Regions from separate parts of the Homo sapiens genome. Here regions 1, 2, 3, 4, 5 and 7 are each reported to be linked to region 6. The links are microRNA targets in miRTarBase. Many come from high-throughput screens and were not tested one by one. Region 6 holds a microRNA gene; each other region holds the end of a gene's coding sequence.

Region 1 (3,098 bases), not on the chromosome of region 6:
GAGAGAGGGTGTGGGGTGGGGTTGGTGGGGATGCTACACACTTTTAAACAACCGGATCTTGCGAGAACTCGCTATCATGAGAACAGCACCAAGAAGATGGTGCTAAGTCATTCATGAGAAATCTGCTCCCATAACCCAATCACCTCCCACCAGGCCCCACAACCAGCATTGGGGATTACATCTTGACATGTGATTTGGTAAGGACACAGATCCAAACCATATCAATGGTCTTTCCCCTAAAAATATACCATTTGTATATACCTGTATATATAAATAAAATATCTCAGGGATTTTGACTGGAGAGGGTGTAGGGGCAGTAGGAGAGGAAGAAAGAAAGAAAAAGAAAGAGATGAAAATTTCTGGAATCAAGTCCTGTCTCATAAGCTAAGTTATCAGAATCAAAGGATGAAGTATTCTGACACAAAGGGCTAGTGAATCTTGAGAACTCTGGATTTATGCATCTACTGTAGAGGTCGTCAGGGATAATATGATGATAGCAGGGCAGCAGGGAGGGAGCTCTTAGTAATAGGAGCTGATCAAGATCCAGAGCACTGTAAGGTCAGAAACAGAAATTTTCTTTTAATGAGTATAAAAGAGTTTACATGAAATGAGAATTAAAATATACAAGATACCAGAAAAAAAAACCTGTAACTTCTTAATAGGAACAAAATAACCAACTAAGGTATTTTAATTATTAAAAGTAGATTTTTTTAATTAGAAATAGAGGAATGAAAGAACTTATTTTTCTCATGGGAATAAAACGAAACCCAAATGTGTGAGAGTCAGAGGCACAGATTTTGACCTTTAAGAAATAATTTTATCTTTGTGAGAATGCCAGGGGCAAACTGCTAAAGAGAAATGGAAGAATCAAGTTTCTTCTTTAATCCATGTGTATATAACTTATGTTTGAATCCCGTATAAGAACTAAGAAACACTGTTTACTTGAACTATGATAATTGTCTGTATTTAAAAAGTTGTGCTTAAATATATTGTTTGTAATTTTTACTAAATTTTCACACTTGACATTTTTCCTTTGTTCTAGAGTTTCTGTTGGTGCCTATATAAAACATTGATTAGTTGATAATTTTAAATATTTAGAGAATAAGAAGCTACTAGATGGTATGTATGAAGTGGTAGTTTCAAAGGACTGTCAAAGTATTGAAATGCATCTAACTTTGAATTTAGATTATATCAATTTTCCAGTAAATTCTAGATTTCTGATCTAGCAAAATCAGTATCAAAGGCTAATTTATCATTATTTTCTTCCTATATATAGCTATGGAACTATGTGAAGATAAATGGAAAACTACATCCTTTACCAGTACTCTGAAATCAGCAATTTTGTTCCAGGAAAAATCTTGAACCCTAGATTTACAATATTTAGCATCTAGTGTGCAGGAACACTGACAAACTGTGATTCAGGAAAGGTCTAAATAATTAAAGATAATGGTTCTTCTATTTTGATGTCTTCAAACAGTTTATTAGGACTTTTCTGAGGGAAACAAAATATCAATTGTAAGAGAATATATTTTTATAATAATACCCAGATTACAAAATCAATAACATCAATATTACTAATTTAAATAAATGACAAACACATAAATATTGGCCAGGGGCAGTGGCTCACACCTGTAATCCCAGGATTTTGGGAGGCTGAGGCTGGCAGATAGCTTGAGCCTAGGTGTTTGAGACCAGCCTGGGCAACATGGTGAAACCTCGTCTCTACAAAAAAATACAAAAATTAGCTGAGCATGGTGTTGCATGCCTGTGGTCCCAGGTATTCGGGAGGCTGAGGTGGGAGGGATCGATTGAGCCCAGGAGATTGAGGCTGCAGTGAGCCAATCACATCACAATACTACAGCCTAGGCAACAGAGTGAGACAGTGTCTCAAAAAAAAGTAAATATTAAATTATTATGCCTAGATTATAAATTATCTAAATTTTAAAGATTAATAAGAACGCTTATTTTCATAGGGTTGTTGGAGAAGAAAAGCTATTTTGCAAGTGCAGGGCGACACTTAGCTGGTTCACAGTGGTACAAACATTTGCTAAAATAAAATATTTCCAAATCAGTTGATACAGTGCTGCAGCCCCAGCTACCAGGACCCTTAGCCTGGGATCCCCCAGACCTCCACATGACCCAGCAACTATCACAACAGGCATCTCTTGGACCTTGTTCTAGTGCTGTGGCCTGTGTTTTTAAATATTTAAATATCACCCTAGTTTTTAAATATTTAAATATCACCCTAGTGCACACGTGACAGTATAATAATAATGAAAGAAAGGAGTCTTTATTTGAGAAAGCAAAGAAATTCAGTGAAATGATTCTGAGACAATCATAGGGCCATAGTATGGCTATTCCCCTTTGTCCCCAGGTATAATTTTAAGACCGAATAATAACATCAAATCAGAAGACGTCAGACAAGGAACTGGAGAATGTTCTGTTAAACAAGTTCATTTGTCTGATAATGTAAATACACAGTCATTTTAAAAGCTGGTTTGGCTCTGGTACCGTAGTTTCCTCTTTCCTCATATGAGCTTACTCACAAGTCTCTTACTTCTTGGAGAATTTGGAAGAAGCATACTAATCCAAATCCTCAGTCTTCACTGGGGCAGCTGTCTTCTCGCAAATCCAAAAAATTTCAGCACTACAGCGAGAAATATAAATATTTCCTTTTTGAAAATAAGCACATCCTTTGGATCCATTGATCTGGTCAAGTTCTTTAGTACTAAATCTGAAAATTAATTTAAAATTAATTATAAATTCTGTATTTGAAACGTGATCACTATTTAGTGCCCTCAGTTGCTCTTACAGCCAATGTCATGTATCTGAATATGGAGAGACTTCTGCCTCCACAAAGCTTCAAAATCTGAAGCTGCCTAAAGCTGGCACAAAATCTGCCCAGAGCTGGCACATCTGGGTTCTTTATTTTAAGTTAATCATAATCCCAGGTAGAATTCTTTAAGAGAAATACTTAAATCCTGGACTGAGAATTTGTATTTCCTTCATAAATATGTAATTCCATTAATGAAATCTAATCAGTTCAGCTTATATTAGAAGTACTTGAAGTTCTTTGGGACCTTATGAAGAAAAACATA
Region 2 (3,094 bases), not on the chromosome of region 6:
TCTCCGCAGAGGCAAGCAAAGAGGCAGCCTTGGCAAACCAGGAAGTCTGGGAAGAGACCCAGGGCATGGCGCCCCCCAGCCGGTGGTATTTCAATCAAGACAGTGCCTGCAGAGAATCTGGGGGAGCACCCAAGAACACGCCCCTGTCTGAGGACGACAACCCGGGTGCCTCGTCAGCCCCCGCTCAGGCCACGTTCATCAGCCCAAGCGAAGATTTTTCTTCAAGCAGCCAGGCAGAAGTCCCGCCCTCTCTCTCTCGTTCAGGGAGGGACTTGTCATGACTCATGGTTACATTCAGGATACTTGAGCACTTTATATACTACCGTAGCACTGTAGCTATTTTTTATGTGATAATCTTGTTTGATAAAAAAGTAAACCTGTTTTGCAATTGAAGCCTCCATTTTCTATGAAGGGGCCAGTTGGAAGACCTGTGTTTTCTCAAGTTCTTCTGGATGACTGGTCCTGAAATTCCGGGCCTCCACGACATGCCCAGTATCCCACTTTCAAGATGATTTCATGTCCTTCAGTCACAAGGGTGGTTTTGGGACAGCAAGTTAAGAATTGTCCCTCGAGTGGACATACTTTATTTACTTTTTTAGGGAAATGCAATTCTTTATTGGAACTCAAGTTTGTGTCTGTAAACATTCAACAGAAGGGGTAAAACAAGAACAATCCACATCATCCTTCCCCTGGCCCCAGCTTCTGGGGCTGAAGTAGGGAGCTTCCACTTTAACCCGACTGGCTCTGGCTCCAGGGCCTGAGATGCCTTCGTAATCTGGCAACTGGGTCCCAGGCAGCCTTGAGAAACTGCTGGGTCCCTGCCTTGCTGGCAGCTTCGGGAGGTCTCTGGGTCCCCATCTCGCTGGCAGCTTGAGAGACTGCAGGGTCTCGTCCTTCCACACCTCCACCAGGGAACCCTGGGTCCCGCCCTCCAGGACGTCCACCACTGGGTCCCGGCATCCCGCACCTCGACTGGAGGGGACATATTTCAGTTCCAGTCTCGGTAGTTGTCACTGGGAGATGCTCAGGCTCTTGCCATAAACCCCATCTGTGCTCCACTGGGACTTTGGCCCAGAACATTTTCCTCCAACCAGCTCTCCAGCTTCCACCCCACGCGGTGTGGGCTTTGGGAACTTACTGATCCCCAGGTCACATTTCCAATTCGTATTGCTGGAGGTGTGGGTTTTGTTGCCTGGTTTGTCTTTGTTTGGTTTTAGACAGGGCTTGCTCTGTCTTCTGGGCTGGAGTGCGACGAATCTGCCTGGTTGTCCCCAGTGAGTCCAGGTTGGGTTTCATGTTGTAGTGTCTGCCTTCAGCTTTTAAAATTTCTGCAAACTGGGGCAAATACAGCAGACTTGTCTGGAGCCCTTTAATATTGAGGGACCCCACGCAGTTGCTTCAGTTCAGCCAACGCTTCCATAGTGCTGTTTGTTTTTTTTTTTTTAATTTTGAGACAGAATCTTGCTCTGTCGCCCAGCCTGGAGTGCAGTGACATGATCTCGGCTCACCGCAACCTCTGCTGCCTCCTGGGTTCGAGCAATTCTCCTGCCTCAGCCTCCCAAGTAGCTGGGACTACAGGTGTGCACCACTGCACCCAACTAATTTTTGTATTTTTAGGAGAGATGGGGTTTCACCATATTGGCCAGGCTGCTTTCCAACTCCTGGCCTCAACTGACCTGCCTACCTCAGCCTCCTAAAGTGTTGCGAGCCACCGTGCCTGGCCCATAGTGCTGTCTCATCTTAACACCTTCGTTCATCCTATGAATGAATGTCCATTCTAGGGATTTAGGAGTTACGTGCCAGGAACTGTGGACAAAGACCAAAGAAGTTTTTATTATACCCCAAGGGGATATCATTAAATCCACATGAGCAGATAAAAGAGGATGTCTTTGGGCCAGGCACGGTGGCTCATGCCTGTAATCCCAGCACTTTGAGAGGCCAAGGCGGGCAGATCATTTGAGGTTTGGAGTTTGAGAACAGCCTGACCAACATGGTGAAACCCTCTGTCTACTAAAAATAGAAAAATTAGCTGGGCGTGGTGACACGTGCCTGTAGTGCCAGCTACTCTGGAGGCTGAGGCAGGAGAATCACTTGATCACAGGAAGCAGAGATTGTAGTGAGCCAAGATCACACCACTGCCACTCCAGCCTGGGTGACGGAGTGAGACTCAGATTTAAAAAAAAACAAAAACCCAAGACTAGGCAGCATATGAATATGATAGATGTTATGTGCAAGATTAACAAGCGATGTCTTAACATATAAAACTTGACTCATTTGGAACTAAAATCCTGCTCTATGTTTTCTGAATTGGGCACTGCCACAGGACACACATTGAAAAAAATACTTCATTACATCACAGTCTTGACCTCCAACAGCAGAGACCCTAGAATCTATCATCTAAGCCGGGCACCGCTGAGAGTCAACAGGAGTGGTGGATTCCACCCACAGGTGGAAATGGGCGGCACATGCCCGACTCTGTAAGGCTGACGTCCCTACTTCATGAGAATTGAGTTTGATTTTAGATAATGAATGAATTCGGCTCATGGTCTCCACACCCACGCCTCCAGGGGATGTGTCCTGGACACAGCCTGTGTCCTCCCATGGCTTGCAAGGGAACCTACTGCTCAAAATGACCACCATCATCTCCTGACATCCCTGGCCATGGGGCTAGGATGGTCAGACTTAGAATCCCCAGAGTTGTGACTACAAGGAAGTAAAGCCAGATGGTCTGTGTCTCACTGACTCAATTATTTTTTGGATTGACCTTGGTGCACAAAAGCAACCACGGGCAATATAGAAAGGAAGGATAAGGCTGGGCACAGTGGCTCTCACCTGTAATCCCAGCACTTTGGGAAGCTAAGGTGAGAGGATCGCTTGAGCCCAGGAAGTCGAGGCTGCAGTGAGCCACGTTTGCACCACTGCGCTCCAGTCTGGGCGACAGAGTGAGACCCAGTTTGTTTGTTTTTGAGATGGAGTCTCACTCTGTCACCCAGGCTGGAGTGCAGTGGTATGATGGTGTGATCTCAGCTCACTGCAACCTCCACCTCCCGGGTTCGAGCAATTCTCCTGCCTCAGCCTCCCGAGTAGCTGGGAC
Region 3 (3,084 bases), not on the chromosome of region 6:
GGTGGAACTAAAAGAGAACATAGTTTGAGGGACATTGGATAACAAGGGCTGTTTCCCTTGGTTCTGAGGTAATAGACCTCCACATGCTTGAATTGCAAGGATTAAAGGATCATGGTACTGGTAAATTTAAGAAACCTTAAAATGTCTCCCTTGGTACTCCAGCACTGGTTATTTACTCTTCACATTTCATGAACCAGGTAGAGATGAGGTGCAGCTGAGCACTGGGGAAACTAACTGAGTTCTTGTTTCTGTGTTACAGGCTTTCCTCGGAGACGGGTGGCATGGGGAGCAGCTAGAACAATGCAGATTCATCCATAATCCCTTTCTGCTGTTCACCACCACCCATGATCCATCTGTGTAGTTTCTGAACAGTCAGCGATTCCAGGTTTTAAATAGTTTGTAAATTTTCAGTTTCTACACACTTTATCATCCACTCGTGATTTTTTAATTAAAGCGTTTTAATTCCTTTCTCTGTTCAGCTGTTGATGCTGAGATCCATATTTAGTTTTATAAGCTTCTCCCTGGTTTTTTTTTTTTGGCTCATGAATTTTTCTGTTTGTCATGGAAATGTAAGAGTGGAATATTAATACATTTCAGTTTAGTTCTGTAATGTCAGGAATTTTTCAAAAAAATTAAAAGATGGACTGGAGCTTTTTCTTTGTGAATAGAAACTGGATGCCACAGTGATTCATGTGGGTTTTATTCCTCTTGTCTTGCTGTTATTTTTGTACCTTTTATCCCTCAAAGGACCCTTCTTGGGTTTTGAATGGAAGCCTTTATTCCGGTTAAGATGTTTTCTTCTATTTTACCACTTCCATCTTTTTTTGTGGCCCTCGATCCTATTTTTCCCTGACTCCATGCTTGGTTGGCCCTTATAAAACTTGTGCCCAAAAGATTGAGGATTAGACTTTCCGAGGACTTACCTGTCCTAGGGGAGTAGGCAAGCACTTCCACTAGGGAGGGGGTGGGGGAAAGGAATGACACATGACATACATGGCATACACATTAAGCAGTTGATCATATGTCTGACTGGGTTCCAGTTTCTTGGGAATGTTGGTCCCCTTGTTCAGGCTTGCATATTTTAAACTAAAAATTTCAGTCTATTGTTTTTAGTAACTTCATTTATAGTCCTCCATAACAAGTTAGAAGGATGTATCTGCTACCATTTATTCCTATAATTTTAGAAAGTTGGGGCTTGACATTATACTCATTTAGTGAGAGTAGATGCAAAAAAGTGGAGGGGCAGGAGAACTTCTCCAGACACCTCAGATAAAGTCCGGAGCCCAAGGCTTTATCTTAACCATGTATGGTACCCCATTCATTCATCAAGAAAACCCTCAACAGCTGGGCCTGCATGGAGTGTTATATTTCAAGGTTTTTCACAGGGGTTACAGTAGGACAGTCCCCACCCCAATCAGGCACCAGGATAAAAGCAGGGACTTAAACAGCACCCCGGTTCTTCAGCCTGAGCCATCACATGCTATCAGTCTCCTAACCTCCCCCTGGGCCTTAAGACAGGGCTTGGGCAGAGAAGATAAATGGTGGGACAAAAAAATGAGTTACATTGCCACCTGAGAAACCTCAGAGGGGAGGACCCAGCCTTAGCCTCCCTCCTCCCAAGTGCAAAATGTGTAAACAGAGTAAACGGAACAGAAAAGTGCAGTCTAAGTGGTTTTCTCTCCTGCCCCTCCCACCGCCCCTCCCCCCACCCCCTATTATTTGGGGATAAAGAATATAAAGACAACCCTGGCTTTTCTATTGCCTTGTTGCTTGCTGAATATAAGGAATGGGGTGGGGCAGGAAGGGGCTTGCCCTTAGCCACAGCTCTACGGCTGTGCCTCATTCATTTCCACAGCTGCCAGTGTCCCTAGAGTTTATCAGGTGAATTGGTCAGGGGATCAGTCTCCCTCGAGCCTGACTTACGGCTGGGACAGCCCCATCTTTCTGTTGATTATGTGGCGCATATATATATATATATGTATATATATATAATTTATATAAATATTTCTCTATGTACAAGGAATACGAGTGGCTTTCATGGAGGGAGGGAAGCTGGGGGCCGCAAGGCATCAACGCTGTTGGAGTTGTCCAATTCAGTGCTGTCACAGTCTGAGTCCTCAGAATTGGGAGGGCCCTGTGAGAAAGAGTAGAAATGGAGTGAGATTCCTTGGGGTTCTTTGCTGGGGTCATTTTAATAGCCAGTGGCTTACTGATTTGTTTTTTAAGACAGAGTCTCACTCTCGCCCAGGCTGGAGTGCAGTAGCACAATCTCGGCTCACTGCAACCTCTGCCTCCCAGGTTCAAGCAATTCTTCTGCCTCAGCCTTCTGAGTAGCTGGGACTACAGGCATGCACCACCACGCCCAGCTAATTTTTGTACTTTTAATAGAGATGGGGTTTTACCATATTGGTCAGGCTGGTCTTGAACTCCTGACCTTGTGATCCACCCGCCTCGGCCTCCCAAAGTTCTGGGATTCCAGGCGTGAGTCACCATGCCCAGCCAGCTTACTGGTTTTATTCCTTCCAGATTTCAGTTGCTCAGGCCATTCTCCAAGGTGTCAGACTCCTTTCAGAATCATTCCCTGGCTGCAATTTATAGCTACATGCAAGCTACTGGTCAGGCATCGTAATAGATGCTCTGTGCAAGAGGCTTCTGAAATTCCACCACGTGGATATTTGCTCTTTATGGTACTTTCTGGCCTGTGCAGCTGTCTCCCCAAAAGCTGTTAAAAGACAAGGCATCTGCTTACAGCTCTCCCTGTTCAATATCTGCTTTTTGCTGTTGTGCCACTCACCCGCTCTCTGAGAAGTTCCTGGTGTGGAATGGGCAGGGAGCTGGGTTCAGGGCCAGGGATGACCTCTGAAGGAGGTGGGTCCAGTGGGATTTCTGAGCCCTGGGAGCACATGTCATCAGACCGCTCATCTGGCCGCTCATCAGTGTTGGTGCTGCCAACTTCAGGTGTGCCACTGGGGGAAGGTTCACTAGCTGTGCCTTCCTCCCCATCTGATGGATTCTCTGAGCTGAAGGTAGATAGTGACTGGCGCATGTTCAGGCTCTGAGGCCACCTACATGTTGAAGAGGGGG
Region 4 (3,098 bases), not on the chromosome of region 6:
ATATGATCAGAAGAGTCTGAAAATAATGAAAATTAAAGGTCAGATGTTTATGAATGTTCATCTATGCTTTATTTTCTAGGATAAATCTATAAGCACAAGTTTACCTGTCCTAGATTTAATAGATGCCATTGCACCAAATGCAGTTCGTCAAGAAATGATCAGGAGAGAAAACTTATCTGATGAGGACAAGCTGAACAATGCTAAGTAAGCCTTTATGGTTTATATTACAATACATGGCCCTTTAATTCTCTAAAATCCTTATAGGAAAAGTTACTATGCCCTTAAAATTCATATTTTTAAATATAACTTATATGTGAGTCTTAGATTTAAGACTCACAAACTTAACCTTTTCGTAAAACTAATCTTGTCAAAATATTTCACTCTTTTGTTAAAATATGTTAAGTGAAAACACAGTGGATAACACCAAGATATTTTTCTTGTCTCTTCAAGATACGCCATTTCAGTTGCTCGAAAGATCGGTGCCCGGATATATGCATTACCTGATGACCTCGTAGAAGTGAAACCAAAGATGGTTATGACGGTGTTTGCATGCTTAATGGGAAAAGGACTGAACAGAATAAAATAATCATTTCATATGATTTTCTGCCACATTAAACATATTGTATGCCTCACAGTTTACAGGATTCTGAAATGTAGTGGGTGTAAAACCAGAGATTATTTGTATGCTCAAAATAGTTATATATTCATTAATGAATTCAATATCCTGTTCATACTAGTTAGAGCTGGTCAGCCTTTTTGGGTAACACAGTTAATTTACCAACTGATACAGATAATAGAATATATTCATAATCAAGCTGATACTTCATGATTAAATTATTTTTGTTGCTTAAAAGTCGTATTAGACAAGACTAAATCATTCTTTTTTATGGTTCAAAAAAGATGAATACAAACGTTTTTGCAGGTTCTGCTGTGAAATGTGGTTTGATTTTTTTGGTGTGTTAATTTTGATCATAAATGCATTCATACTCATAATCCAGTTTAATCCTTTTATTTGCTTCCTCCAACTATTTAAAGTGGTCCAAAAACACTTTTCTGTAAGTTTCTATACTGTCTAAAACCTTATGGTGACCAGAATTGTTTATTAATATCAAACTTTTTTATATATGAGAACTAATTCTTGAATAAACCCCAAAGTTCACTCTCTTGTTTAAGTAGCAGCAGCTTTTTACTTAAAATTTAATTTTAACTACATTGATACTTTACACATCCTAGTTTGGTAACACAGCTTTAACTATGTCATGCAACATATATATGTTGGTAGGATGTTATTAGAGAGATATGTGTGCATATATATTTTTTTGCACCTGAATCACCCAGCTTTTCATAAGTGGTATGTTTAATTGGTCATTCAGCCAACCATCAGTATTTTCCCCCCACAACATGTGTAACACTTTTCAGTCTGTGGATATCTGATACATTAAGATTTCTTTTTATAAGTATTCATTTTGAATGTGCATATAGTTATTTGACCCCTTCCAAATACTTGTAGCCAAACATTGGCTAGAACATCCCAAGATATGCTGACACTGTCCTGTTAGCTTCATATTATACTTGCTAGTTTAGGTCTCTATAGAAGCCCTATATAATTTAGAATATGCCCACTGAATATCTTTAATAGAAAGTAACATAAAGCTAGTATTCAATGTAGAGTATTTTCATATGTTTTTCACAGCCCGTTACAAATTGGCAATGTTTGGTTAATGTTTGTATTACTTGGAAATCGCTACAGCTTGGACTATTTTTTTCTAAATTTTTAGCATTAGTCCATTTCTGCTGCTAACAATTGAATCCAGAAATCTACTTTCTCCATCTTCCACTGTTAGTGCCAGTGAGCAATACTGTTGTGCAACAAAAATGTCACTTTATCTCAGTGTGAATGAGTAGTCTAAATTCCCTTTCTACCATTGATTTAAATATATATATTGGTAAGAGAGACTGCCCATGTGTTTAGAATAGAATTTTTTAAATGAAATGATCAACAGGTGGAATTTGAAATATATTCTTCTACAAAAGAGATTTCTTTCCCTTTTATATTTTGATGATTGTTTTCTTAAGATTAAGATATGTTCTTGCTCTTTTATAAGATTATTTAAATTATGTTTCCCTCTGATTTTTTTTCACCATTGTATTTACTAAGTTATTGGATTTACATGAAATCTGGCACTTTAGGGTGTTCTTTTTCTCACAGAGTATATTTAATAAAAATGCTGTGTATATAGAAATGTGTTTATATTTATTTCATTTGAAGAAAAATATTCAGCCTTGAAAATTAGTCTAGCATAAGCTTATTTTCCAGAAAAGAAAAGAATTCCTAAATGAGTTAGTAAAACAAAAAAAAAATTGTGTCTGATTTCTTTGAAGATGAGGGTAGTTCTTTTGTTCTTAAATATGAAGAATTATTAAAAACCAACTGTGTGATTACTACAATTTAGTTTGTGCTGAAATAATTCAGGTGAATCAATCCATTCACAAATTTATCATTTATTATGATCCAGATACTATGCTAGACACTGGGGATTCATCTGAAAAAAATACAGATGAAGTCTCCTGACCTCATGTATCACATCCATGTATGATATCCTAGTAGAGAGACAATTCGTAAATAGGAATTTTAGACAGTGATAATGCAGTAGAAGAAATAACATAAGGTAATGTGATAGAGACTGACTTGGGAAATGGAGTGGAGATTATTTGTATTTGGGTGGTCAGGGAAGGTCTCTCTAAGGATATTTGTGCTATAAGTGTTCAGCAGAGAGAACAAATGTAAAGAACCTGAAGCAGGCAGTCCTGTAGGCATCCTAGAAGACAAACAGGTGAACATGACCTGAGAGTACTGAGGGAGAGGCAGAGTCTGGAGATGGAGATGGAGTCTAGGGTATTGTAGGACTAGATCTAAATCTGGATTTTTTTTTTTCTTCTCTGACTGGAGTCATGACTGCTCTTTTGTATATGTGGTTTGGGTAAGCTGCTTGAAGTAATATGCTGCTTCTGAATCTTGGATGCTACTGTTCATCATAACTCTGCCACTGGTCTCTGTATCACCTGTGTAGAAAAAACTGATGATAGGCTGCATAGAT
Region 5 (3,098 bases), not on the chromosome of region 6:
CACCATTAAATTATATCAAATATCCAACAGATATTGTCATTTTCTTCTGTGATTTATAAAGGAAACATTCCTTTTGTACAAATCAGAAGTATCTTAAAAATCAACCTTAACACCAAAATATACATGTAATTTTAACTTGGTTTAGGAAAACATGAAAGAACTGTCACATTTTGGTGTGAACAAGGTTCTGAAAACCCCCTATCAGAGGTCTCATTCACTTTTTTCCACATATCACTTGAAGGTTTTGAAACTGGTAAAAACAGAATTCAGCTCGATGTACATCAAAACTTTAACAGTTCTGAAAAAGACGTATTTCGTAAGGGCCAAAATGTACAGCACAGCAATATTACAATGTTACAGTATAAATATGTCAAGCCAATTTGTAATAAAATAAGACAGTTGTCTTCAAAAGAGCTGTTTGACTATAGAGCAACCAAATAGATCTAGAACATCTTTGGAAAAACCACAAAGTGCCTTTACAGAAAGTTAAGTTTAGACTACACTTAATTAAAAGATAATACTCTAAACTCAAAATTATTTTCTCTATATGAGGAATTTTGACACTTGTTTTCACACCTGCCAATATTCAATATTTTTAACTCACACTTCTTTTCATACATCTGCCAATATTTAATATTTTATTCTATGCCCCTGCACTGAATTGATGTAAGTGTGAAGTTCCACTATTATTATTACCACACATGCTAATACCTAATAACTGGTCTGTCATTATGTAGTGGTTAAATAAGCAAATGCTGAACTCAGCACAGCTCTAGCAAAATGCAAAGGAAATAAGAAAAGCCTCACCTCAGAATGATTACACCATAAACAGAAATAAACATTTTCAAACACAAAGTTTCACAAAATAATATATCATCACTTTAAAAGAAATTCAGAACTCTATTTTGCTGTTGATCAAACTTGTGCATACACTCAAGTTACTAAACACAATTTGATAGTTAGATACTTGTAAAAATGCATTCTAAACTTAATAATCAATTAATTCATAATTAACAAGAGCAAACATTCCTAGTCCTAACATTTAAAAAAACCCAGTCCAGTGCTGCCACATCTCAAGTTCTGAAAAGCTAAAGGCAGGAACAATTCTGGTTATACAATTCCTGCATTTCTCCACCTTAAAAAATACTTGAAGAAACTTTAGGAAACTTTATATTAAGGCTTGCTGTATTTCTGTATCTTAAATTGAGAAAAATCAAAACCTACGATGTAACCTCGAATTATTTAAATAGCTTTTGGCATTTTTCTTGAAAAGCAAATTTGAATCTTTCACTATAAAACATTTCTATACCACAATTACTAATTCACATTAATGTGTAAGTGCCCTCATTTCCTATTCCCTGGCAGGCGCTATGTCTTCTTTCTACGTTTTGTGCAGCTTTCAGAACAGTCAGTGCTCAGAAAAAATGAAAACGTAATGGAGCAAAATCAAAGTCCCCAAAAAAAGTGATTTATCCTAGATTACAAAATCCAGTAGTGGAAGAACCAACATTTACACACCCAAATACACACACACCCACACATACACAGGACACAGCGAGAGATGAGAGAGAGTGGGGGGTGGGGGAGGTGAGAGACAGTGGGAGGAGGGGGGAGGGGGAAGAGAGTGGGAGGAGGGGAGAGAGAGTTGCAGGGAGGGAAGAGAGAGACAAAAGCAAGACACAACCTTTGTCCTCTATTCATGTCAACTTGCAGTTTCTGGACACAAACTAGTAGGAAATGTAGAGCCCAGAAAGATCGTGTCAGAGAACTTGACGAGACAGTGTAGATATAGTTTATCTGGGTGGGGCGGGGTGGGGGGAAATCCCAATTTTTCTAAAACAAACAAACAAACAAACAAAAAAAACACCACATTCTTGGTAGAGGTTTTTTCAAAAATCCAACAATAAAAACTACTGGGCTTCTCTAAATGCATTTCCATATTAACATTAATTTTTAAAATTTCAACATGTTTTACAATTTAAGTTTTCACTTGTAAGATAAGTTGGGAACCCAAAATTGTCAAAAAAAATTTTAATTATTGTCAATAAAAATTCTTACTGCACAATCTTTATAGGCGTTTTATTTTAAAGCACCTTTTTAAATTTTAACAGTGGGTTTCTAAAAAGAAAACAGTAAAATAAAAGAGGGAACAAACTGGCAAGGTTAAAGTACTCCCTTACACACACACACACACACACACACACACACACACACACACACACCTTTCATGCCAGAATGACTGGCAGCATTGGCAAATAATGTCAATGAAAGGATGGGGGAAACTATCACTTATAGTGTTTATAGAAACCTAAAATACTAATGTTTCTGCTAAGAAATTAAATAGTTTGGGGAAATCAAAAAGCTACCAATAGCTGATCTATGAAATATGAAAATGAAACTGATTTTTAAAAACAGGAAAGGCCAAAAATCTACTAGAAATTTTTAAAAATCAGCCTCAATTTTATTTTCTGATGTCAGACTAGTTATTAATTAGATACCATTTGTTTGCAAAGGAGCAAAATTATAACTCTATCACTGGAACCTATCCTCAGCCACTTCAGTGCAGTTTCTAGCAGCACTATTTGGATACAAAAAGAATGTGGTCAGACAATGCCCCTGAAAACCCCCTGGTTAGACCTTCCTTCAAATACATGTTCTTAGGGTCTTGACACACTACACATGTGTATAGAAGAATAAATGAAGGTAGTATTTTGACAGATTACAAAAGTATGAACTATATACACCGAGTGATAACACAAAGCGCTCAGAAAGCTATATTTACTTGCCTCCCAACTGACTTACGATGTTAATATTCACTATTCAAATTTTATCCTAAACATCTTTATTGGCTTGTTCCCCTCCCCAAACAAATACTAAAATATACTGGTTTGGGGTTTGCTCTATGCATTTTCCAAGAGCCAATCAAACAGCGACTTGCATCTCTCCTCACTGGAAGCTTTTTCCATCACTTCATAGTATTGAAGCACAGCCTGCAGGAGGTCTCCCACTTTCCATCCTTTCTCTTGTAATTGTTTTGAAAGCTAAGAAAGAAAGATGTGTCAAACATTAACCAAAAACAATTTTATAACAAAGCTTTT
Region 6 (3,000 bases):
TGTGAAGGAGTTATAGGGGACTTGTCTTGAACCTGTGTTACGCATAATAAGTTCAGATTTTACCTAGACTGGAGCATTTTTCTAAAGATTCTTTAATTCATCCTTTAACAAGATTGATAAACGTGAATTGTTATATTAAAGAATATTATTTTATTGGGTAGACAAATAATACAGGAGGCAGAGGTATTGGTCTACAGCCCCACCATCTTCCAATACCAGTCCCTGTCCTTTATTGCTGCCTCTAGGGAGGCTGGAACCATTCACCTGATGCCAAATGATTGGAAGAACAGGGCAATGAAGGGACTTAGAATAATTCCTAGTTAACCAATGTACTGCTGACAACAATACACAGTAAAGAGTAAACAATCAGACCTTCCCCAGCACCTCGTCCCTTTGGTGGATGGGGAAATTTGATTTGCCCATATTTTTAATGTAGAAAGATATAGACCACTAGGAATTAATTTACACAGAGGGCTTTTTAGCCTGTGATATGCGAAAATTTCAAGTATAGATTATCTTTTATCTCAACAGACACACTGACACCGATTACCCTTTTGGAACGCTAGAGTCAGATCTATTTGACCAGCTCCTTCTTATACTTTAGGTAGATCAGAAATTCAATTAAGGTTTGGTGAAATACTCATGTTTACCAGGAGCATTTGTTCCAGTATTCAGTTCTGAACCCTAACCTCCAGGATTACGTTCAATGAATAATCAGCTGAGTTGGCCATGTCACCATTCACCAAATCAATACCTATTGCTTAAACTGTTTTTAACCCAGTTTTTATTTTTGCTTTAATCACCAAAGTCCTTTATTTTTATTTTTAAAAATTTAATTTAAAAATTAAAAATATTTATAACAAAATTTACCATCTTACCCATTTTTTATTTTAACATTTTAATTTTTAATTTTTGTGGTTATAAAGTAGGTGTATACATTTATGGGGTACGTGAGATGTTTTGATACAGGCATGCAACACATAATAATCACATCATGAAGAATGGGGTATCCATCTCCTCAAGCCATTATCTTTTGTGTTACAAACTACCCAACTACACGATTTTAGTTATTTTTAAATGTACAATTACATTATTATGGATTATAGTCACCTTGTTGTGCTATCAAAGAGTAGGTATTAGTCATCCTACCTTTTTGTATGCATTAACCATCCCTACCTCCCCACCAGCCTCCTACTACCCTTCCCAGCCTCTGTAACCATCCTTCTACTCTCTGTGTCCATGAGTTCCATTGTTTTGATTTTTAGATCCCACAAACAAGTGAGAATATGCAAAGTTTGTCTTTCTGTGCCTGGCTCAATTCACTTAACATAGTGATCTCCAGTTTGATCTATGTTGTTGCAAATGGCAGGATCTCATTTTTTTAAATGGCTGAATAATATTCCATTGTGTGTAAGTACCACATTTTCTTTATCCATTCATCTGTTGATGGACACTTAAGTTGCTTCCAAATCTTAGCTATTGTAAAGAATGTTGCAACAAACACAGGAGTCCAGATACCTCTTAGAGGTACTGATTTCCTTTCTTTGGGGTATATACCCCATAGTGGGATTGCTGGATCGTATGGTAGCTTTCTTTTTAGGTTTTTGAGAAACCTTGAACTGTTCTCCGTAGTGGTTGTACTAATTTGCATTCCTACCAACACTGTACGAGGGTTCCCTTTTCTCCACATCCTCACTAGGATTTGTTACTGCCTGTCTTTTGGATATAAGCCATTTTAACGGGGGTGGGATGATATAATATCTCATTGTAGTTTAGATTTGCGTTTCTCTAATAATCAATGATGTTGAGCACATTTTCATATATCTGTTTGCCATTTATATGTCTTCTTTTGAGAAGTTTAACAATATTGATTCTTGCAATTTGTGAACATGGAATATCTTTCCATTTTTTGTATCTTCTTCAACTCCTTTCATCAGTGTATTATATTAATAGTTTTTATTATAGAGATCTTTCACTTATTTGGTTAATTCCTGGGTATTTAATTTTATTTGTGGCTATTGTAAATGGGATTACTTTTTAAATTTCTTGTTCAGATTGTTCACTGTTGGCATATATTGGGCTGGTGCAAAAGTAACTGCAGTTTTTGTCATTACTTTTATTGGCAAACACTGCAATCACTTTTGCACCAACCTAATAGAAATGCTGCTGATTTTGGTATGTTGATTTTGTATCCTGTGACTTGACTGAATTTGTTTATCAATTCTGCTAGTTTTTTTGGTGGAGTCTTTAGGTTTTTCCAAATATAAGATCATCTTATCTGCAAATAAAAATAATTTGCTTTCTTCCTTTTCAGTTTGGATGCCTTTTCTTTCTCTTGTCTAATTGCTCTAGCTAGGACTTCCAGTACTATGTTGAATACCAGTAGTGAAAGTGGGTAGCCTTGTTGTGCTTCAGATCTTAGAGGAAAGGCTTTCAATTTTTTTCCCATTCAGTGTGATACTAGTTGTGGGTCTGTCATCTATGGCTTTTATTATGTTGAAGTATGTTTCTCCTATACCCAGTTTTTTGAAGGACTTTTATCATGAAGGGATGTTTATCATGAAAGGATCAAATGCTTTTTCAGCTTCACTTGAAATGATCATCTGGTTTTGTTCTTCATTCTATTGAGAAGATATATAGTATTGATTGATTTATATATGTTGAGCCATCCTTGCATCCCAGAGATAAATCCCGCTTGGTTGTGATGAATGATCTTGTTGGTGTACTATTGAATTTGGTTTGCTGGTATACCCGTTTTTTAAGGGTGCACTTCAGTGGCATTAAGTATATTCCCATTTTTGTAGATCCAATGTCCAGAACTCTTTTCATCTCGCAGAACTGAAACTCTGTACCTACTCAACAAAACTCCCTAATCTCCCCTCCCCCAACCTGTGGCAACTGCCATTCTACATTTTTTGTGTATGAATTTGACTACCCTGGGTACCTTATACAAGTGGAATCATTTACAGTATTTGTCTTTTTGTGACTGGCTTATTTCAC
Region 7 (3,098 bases), not on the chromosome of region 6:
CATTGTCCACAATGAGCTGAACAATCTTAGTAGAATTGTTTGGCATATTCTGCTTATAATTTACCCTCAGAGCAGAGGGAATAGCTATCTTCAATGAACACTCGTCAATAAACAGTGAGTGCCACTACCCCTCGGTGCCTCAGAGGCTCTCTGCTATTTCCCAGTCAGTTCTGTCAGGGCCCCACCCTTTCAGTCTACATATTATGATTAAGACATTTTCCGTGCCTGTCATGGTGCTGTCTGGTGGAGGATAATTTGGTGTATTCTATTCTTAACTTCTTTTTGGTCCTTATCTTCTGGTTCCCCCCTACATTACAGTGTATATCTAATTGCTTTTCTCCCCCCGTGTTTTCTTTTCAGCTCTTTGCCTTCCCACCTAAACATCAGTTATGAGGACTTTTTCTCTGCCCTTCGTCAATATGCAGCCTGTGAACAGCGTCTGGGAAAGTAGTGGTCATTGGTTGCATAATTTGATTTGAGGCTTGTGGAGGAAAGGAACCAAGTGACTCTGATGTTTACAAAGCACCTATGAAACCCTGTACACACCTAGTTCATAATCCTCATAATTTATCAACAAACACAAAAAAGTGTCTTACTTGAGAGTGAGTGTGTGTGTGTGCGTGTGCACGTGCACACATGTGCACGTTTGTATGTATGGAAATAAACTTATAAATGGGGACGTATTGGAGAAGGAAATACATAGACCTACAACTTTGAGCAAATAGCAGTGATGTTTTAGGAACTGAAATGTCACACTTAAAGTCTTCAGCCCAGCTACTTCCCTATTTTTGTGGGGAGAAGAGGGCCTGATTAGAACTGTTCTGGTTGTGTTTGGCGGGAGGGGAATAATTTTTGTTCAGTCCTTCTTAGTGACCAAACTTTAATTTTTAAGAATAATATATTGACTTACTGAACTGAAGCATTCTGAGTTGAAAGGAGCTCCAGAGGAGTGGAGTTCTGTGTTGCTCACATGTTAAAATCTTGCTCACCTTCAGAGCAGAGGGAATACCTATCTTCAGATATCCGTCCATTTTCATCTCTTAATTGTAGTCAAAAGTATGACTTGAGAGTGTTGCTCTGGTATTCTGGGTTCTGAAGTCTGGTATTCTGGTATTCTGGGTTCAAAAGTATGACTTGAGAGTGTTGCTCTGGTATTCTGAGAGTTGCTCTGTATTCTGGGTTCTGAAGATTATTTGAAAAATAACTCCTACTACATTGAAATGCAGACTTAAAAATTTAAACATTGGATTAGGCAGTCAAAAAAACCAAGCAAGCATAAAAGGTCAATAAGTTGTAATCTTGATAGTAAAGGTGGAAAACTTATTATAAATGGAAAGAAAGTTTTATTTCCTTTTTTGTTTGATGGGCAGTATGCCATATTATACCCAAAGTTCTTTTAAAAAATATTTCCATCAACCATTTTTATTTAAAATAAACATTTGAGGGAAGTTACCAAGGCAGCTTTTTTCCTCAAAAGTAACCTGTTCCTCTTTGGAATAGCACATTTTAGGGGCATGGTTAATACCTGAGATTTTTACTCAGTAAATCCTGATGGTTACTGTGTGTAAAATATCTTTAAGTAGGATTGAAGGCCTCTGTGGGGGAATAAAATATTACCAAAGTCTATAAAAATAAATTTTACATGTTCTCTTTTATGACAGAGAGCAGCACTGGTTCTGTTATTTTTAAAATGAATAATTGATTTCTTGATAGGTGTTTAATATTTCTTCCCTCACTGCTGATTCTTAGATAGAAACCATTCTTTATATTTGATAGACTGCTTTCAGAAAACCCTTATCAACAAGTGTACAATACTTATCTAAAACTATACATTTAGAATGGAGCAGTTTAATACTAGATCTCAGAAGTTTTGAAAAATAGCAAAGAAGACTGGATTTGGAAAGCATGGTCTACAATTGGTTGTTAAATTCTGAAGCTATGAAGAATAAATGTTTCAACTTTGGATTATGAAACCCCATTTATGATTTTTTAAATACACTTGAAATAAAAATGATTAAACTAAATTTTGGTCCAGTGACATTACTTTGCACTGCATAATCCATTATACGTTGTACGACTTTTTTTTTTTGTTTTAATTTATTACTGAGAGTTTTGTGTGAAGCTACAGCATATCTAACCAGAGAATTTCTGATTCCTTATACTGTGATTATATTATATTGAGGCATTTGTAGTGCAGCTGAAGACTGAATTTATGCCTTTTGTAAACATGATAGGTATAAATGTCTTATAAACATTCTGGAGTATGTATAGCTTTAATGAATGAAATTTAATGGACCTGATTAAAATGAAGGGATTTAATCGTTGTTAAAGTTAAGTTAGTCAAATAAATTACCTACTGGAATATAGCCCAAGCCAGTAAAGGTTTAATATTTGCATTTTCGTGCTTTTATTTTCTCCTTCCATTCATAAGTATATACTTGAAAGTACATCTGTAGCCTATGATTTGAGTCTCTTGAAGTTCTAGGAAGAGGCAAACTACAAACTACTAGGATTCTGATTTCAGATGTAGTCATTCCAGAACCTTCTCTTTATGAGTTCACCTGCTAGTACAATCTCCACAACTTGAATGGCATTGGTTGTTCTGTAATTCCTGCCAAAAGCATCACAAGTTGTACATCATCAAGGCTCCCTTTGCACTCCCAAGAAGAACTGGTAATTTTAAACAAAAGTATGTGTCTTTATTTGTATTGGAAAATACTGTCTTTAAATTGTTTCTTGTTGACACTCCCCACAATGGAAAAATTACCGAATTAAACCTGTTTTATGGATGGCAGCTTGGAGCATAGCAAGAAGTTGGAGGATTTGAATTCCATTCCCAGTTCTCATTGTGTTTTGTTTCTTAAAACTATAATAATCGGTTACTGTTATAAAGTTTAAAAGGTGGTTTTAATGTGAATAGCAAATTCTGGTATATCGTGACTAACGCTTAAGAATGCCTGTCTTTGAGAGGAAGGTGTTATAATATTAATGAACAGTGCCAAATACACTGTGCATATCTGCAATTTAATCTTTGAATGTATGTTACTGGATTAGCTCCCTCCTCCTGTGTGATGGTACCATGCATAGAGTCAATCAAA

Evidence for each region. The annotated mature microRNA hsa-miR-548ah-5p reads AAAAGUGAUUGCAGUGUUUG and lies in region 6 at 2,124-2,143, opposite strand. An mRNA with a match to its seed (bases 2 to 7 or 8) in the 3' UTR can be bound and repressed. Matches are read on the target gene's strand: a 7mer-m8 pairs with bases 2 to 8, a 7mer-A1 pairs with bases 2 to 7 and ends in A, and an 8mer does both.
Region 1: the mRNA of CLEC12B is a reported target of hsa-miR-548ah-5p. The part of its 3' UTR that is shown has no 7-base or 8-base seed match.
Region 2: miRTarBase lists HAUS8 as a target of hsa-miR-548ah-5p. Seed matches in the 3' UTR shown: 7mer-A1 at 309-315.
Region 3: the mRNA of PCBP2 is a reported target of hsa-miR-548ah-5p. Seed matches in the 3' UTR shown: 7mer-A1 at 420-426.
Region 4: miRTarBase lists PLS1 as a target of hsa-miR-548ah-5p. Seed matches in the 3' UTR shown: 8mer at 1,879-1,886 and 7mer-A1 at 2,183-2,189.
Region 5: the mRNA of AKAP11 is a reported target of hsa-miR-548ah-5p. Seed matches in the 3' UTR shown: 7mer-m8 at 1,462-1,468.
Region 7: miRTarBase lists NUS1 as a target of hsa-miR-548ah-5p. The part of its 3' UTR that is shown has no 7-base or 8-base seed match.

Annotation. Positions count from the first base shown.
Region 1 is chr12:10,017,967-10,021,064 of GRCh38, reverse strand. CLEC12B (C-type lectin domain family 12 member B) reads right to left here. Exons shown (of 6, transcript NM_001129998.3): 6 at 2,269-2,734. The coding sequence ends at 2,584. All of the region lies in intron 2 of LOC102724020 (a long non-coding RNA gene), which reads left to right. Among named protein-coding and RNA genes, the nearest start is that of CLEC12B, 8.9 kb to the right of the region's middle.
Region 2 is chr19:17,047,060-17,050,153 of GRCh38, reverse strand. It overlaps HAUS8 (HAUS augmin like complex subunit 8), which reads left to right. Exons shown (of 11, transcript NM_033417.2): 11 at 1-425. The coding sequence ends at 281. Among named protein-coding and RNA genes, the nearest start is that of CPAMD8, 22 kb to the right of the region's middle. RefSeq lists an enhancer at 41-335.
Region 3 is chr12:53,479,147-53,482,230 of GRCh38, forward strand. It overlaps PCBP2 (poly(rC) binding protein 2), which reads left to right. Exons shown (of 15, transcript NM_031989.5): 15 at 260-2,016. The coding sequence ends at 296. MAP3K12 (mitogen-activated protein kinase kinase kinase 12) reads right to left here. Exons shown (of 14, transcript NM_001193511.2): 13 at 2,795-3,065; 14 at 523-2,134. The coding sequence ends at 2,036. Among named protein-coding and RNA genes, the nearest start is that of PCBP2-OT1, 16 kb to the left of the region's middle.
Region 4 is chr3:142,711,422-142,714,519 of GRCh38, forward strand. PLS1 (plastin 1) reads left to right here. Exons shown (of 16, transcript NM_001145319.2): 15 at 80-204; 16 at 451-2,243. The coding sequence ends at 586. Among named protein-coding and RNA genes, the nearest start is that of TRPC1, 11 kb to the right of the region's middle.
Region 5 is chr13:42,319,031-42,322,128 of GRCh38, reverse strand. It overlaps AKAP11 (A-kinase anchoring protein 11), which reads right to left. Exons shown (of 13, transcript NM_016248.4): 13 at 1-3,041. The coding sequence ends at 2,901. Among named protein-coding and RNA genes, the nearest start is that of AKAP11, 48 kb to the right of the region's middle.
Region 6 is chr4:76,574,704-76,577,703 of GRCh38, reverse strand. MIR548AH (microRNA 548ah) reads right to left here and starts at 2,153; the gene lies at 2,078-2,153. All of the region lies in intron 2 of SHROOM3 (shroom family member 3), which reads right to left.
Region 7 is chr6:117,706,565-117,709,662 of GRCh38, forward strand. NUS1 (NUS1 dehydrodolichyl diphosphate synthase subunit) reads left to right here. Exons shown (of 5, transcript NM_138459.5): 5 at 361-3,098. The coding sequence ends at 451. Among named protein-coding and RNA genes, the nearest start is that of NUS1, 33 kb to the left of the region's middle.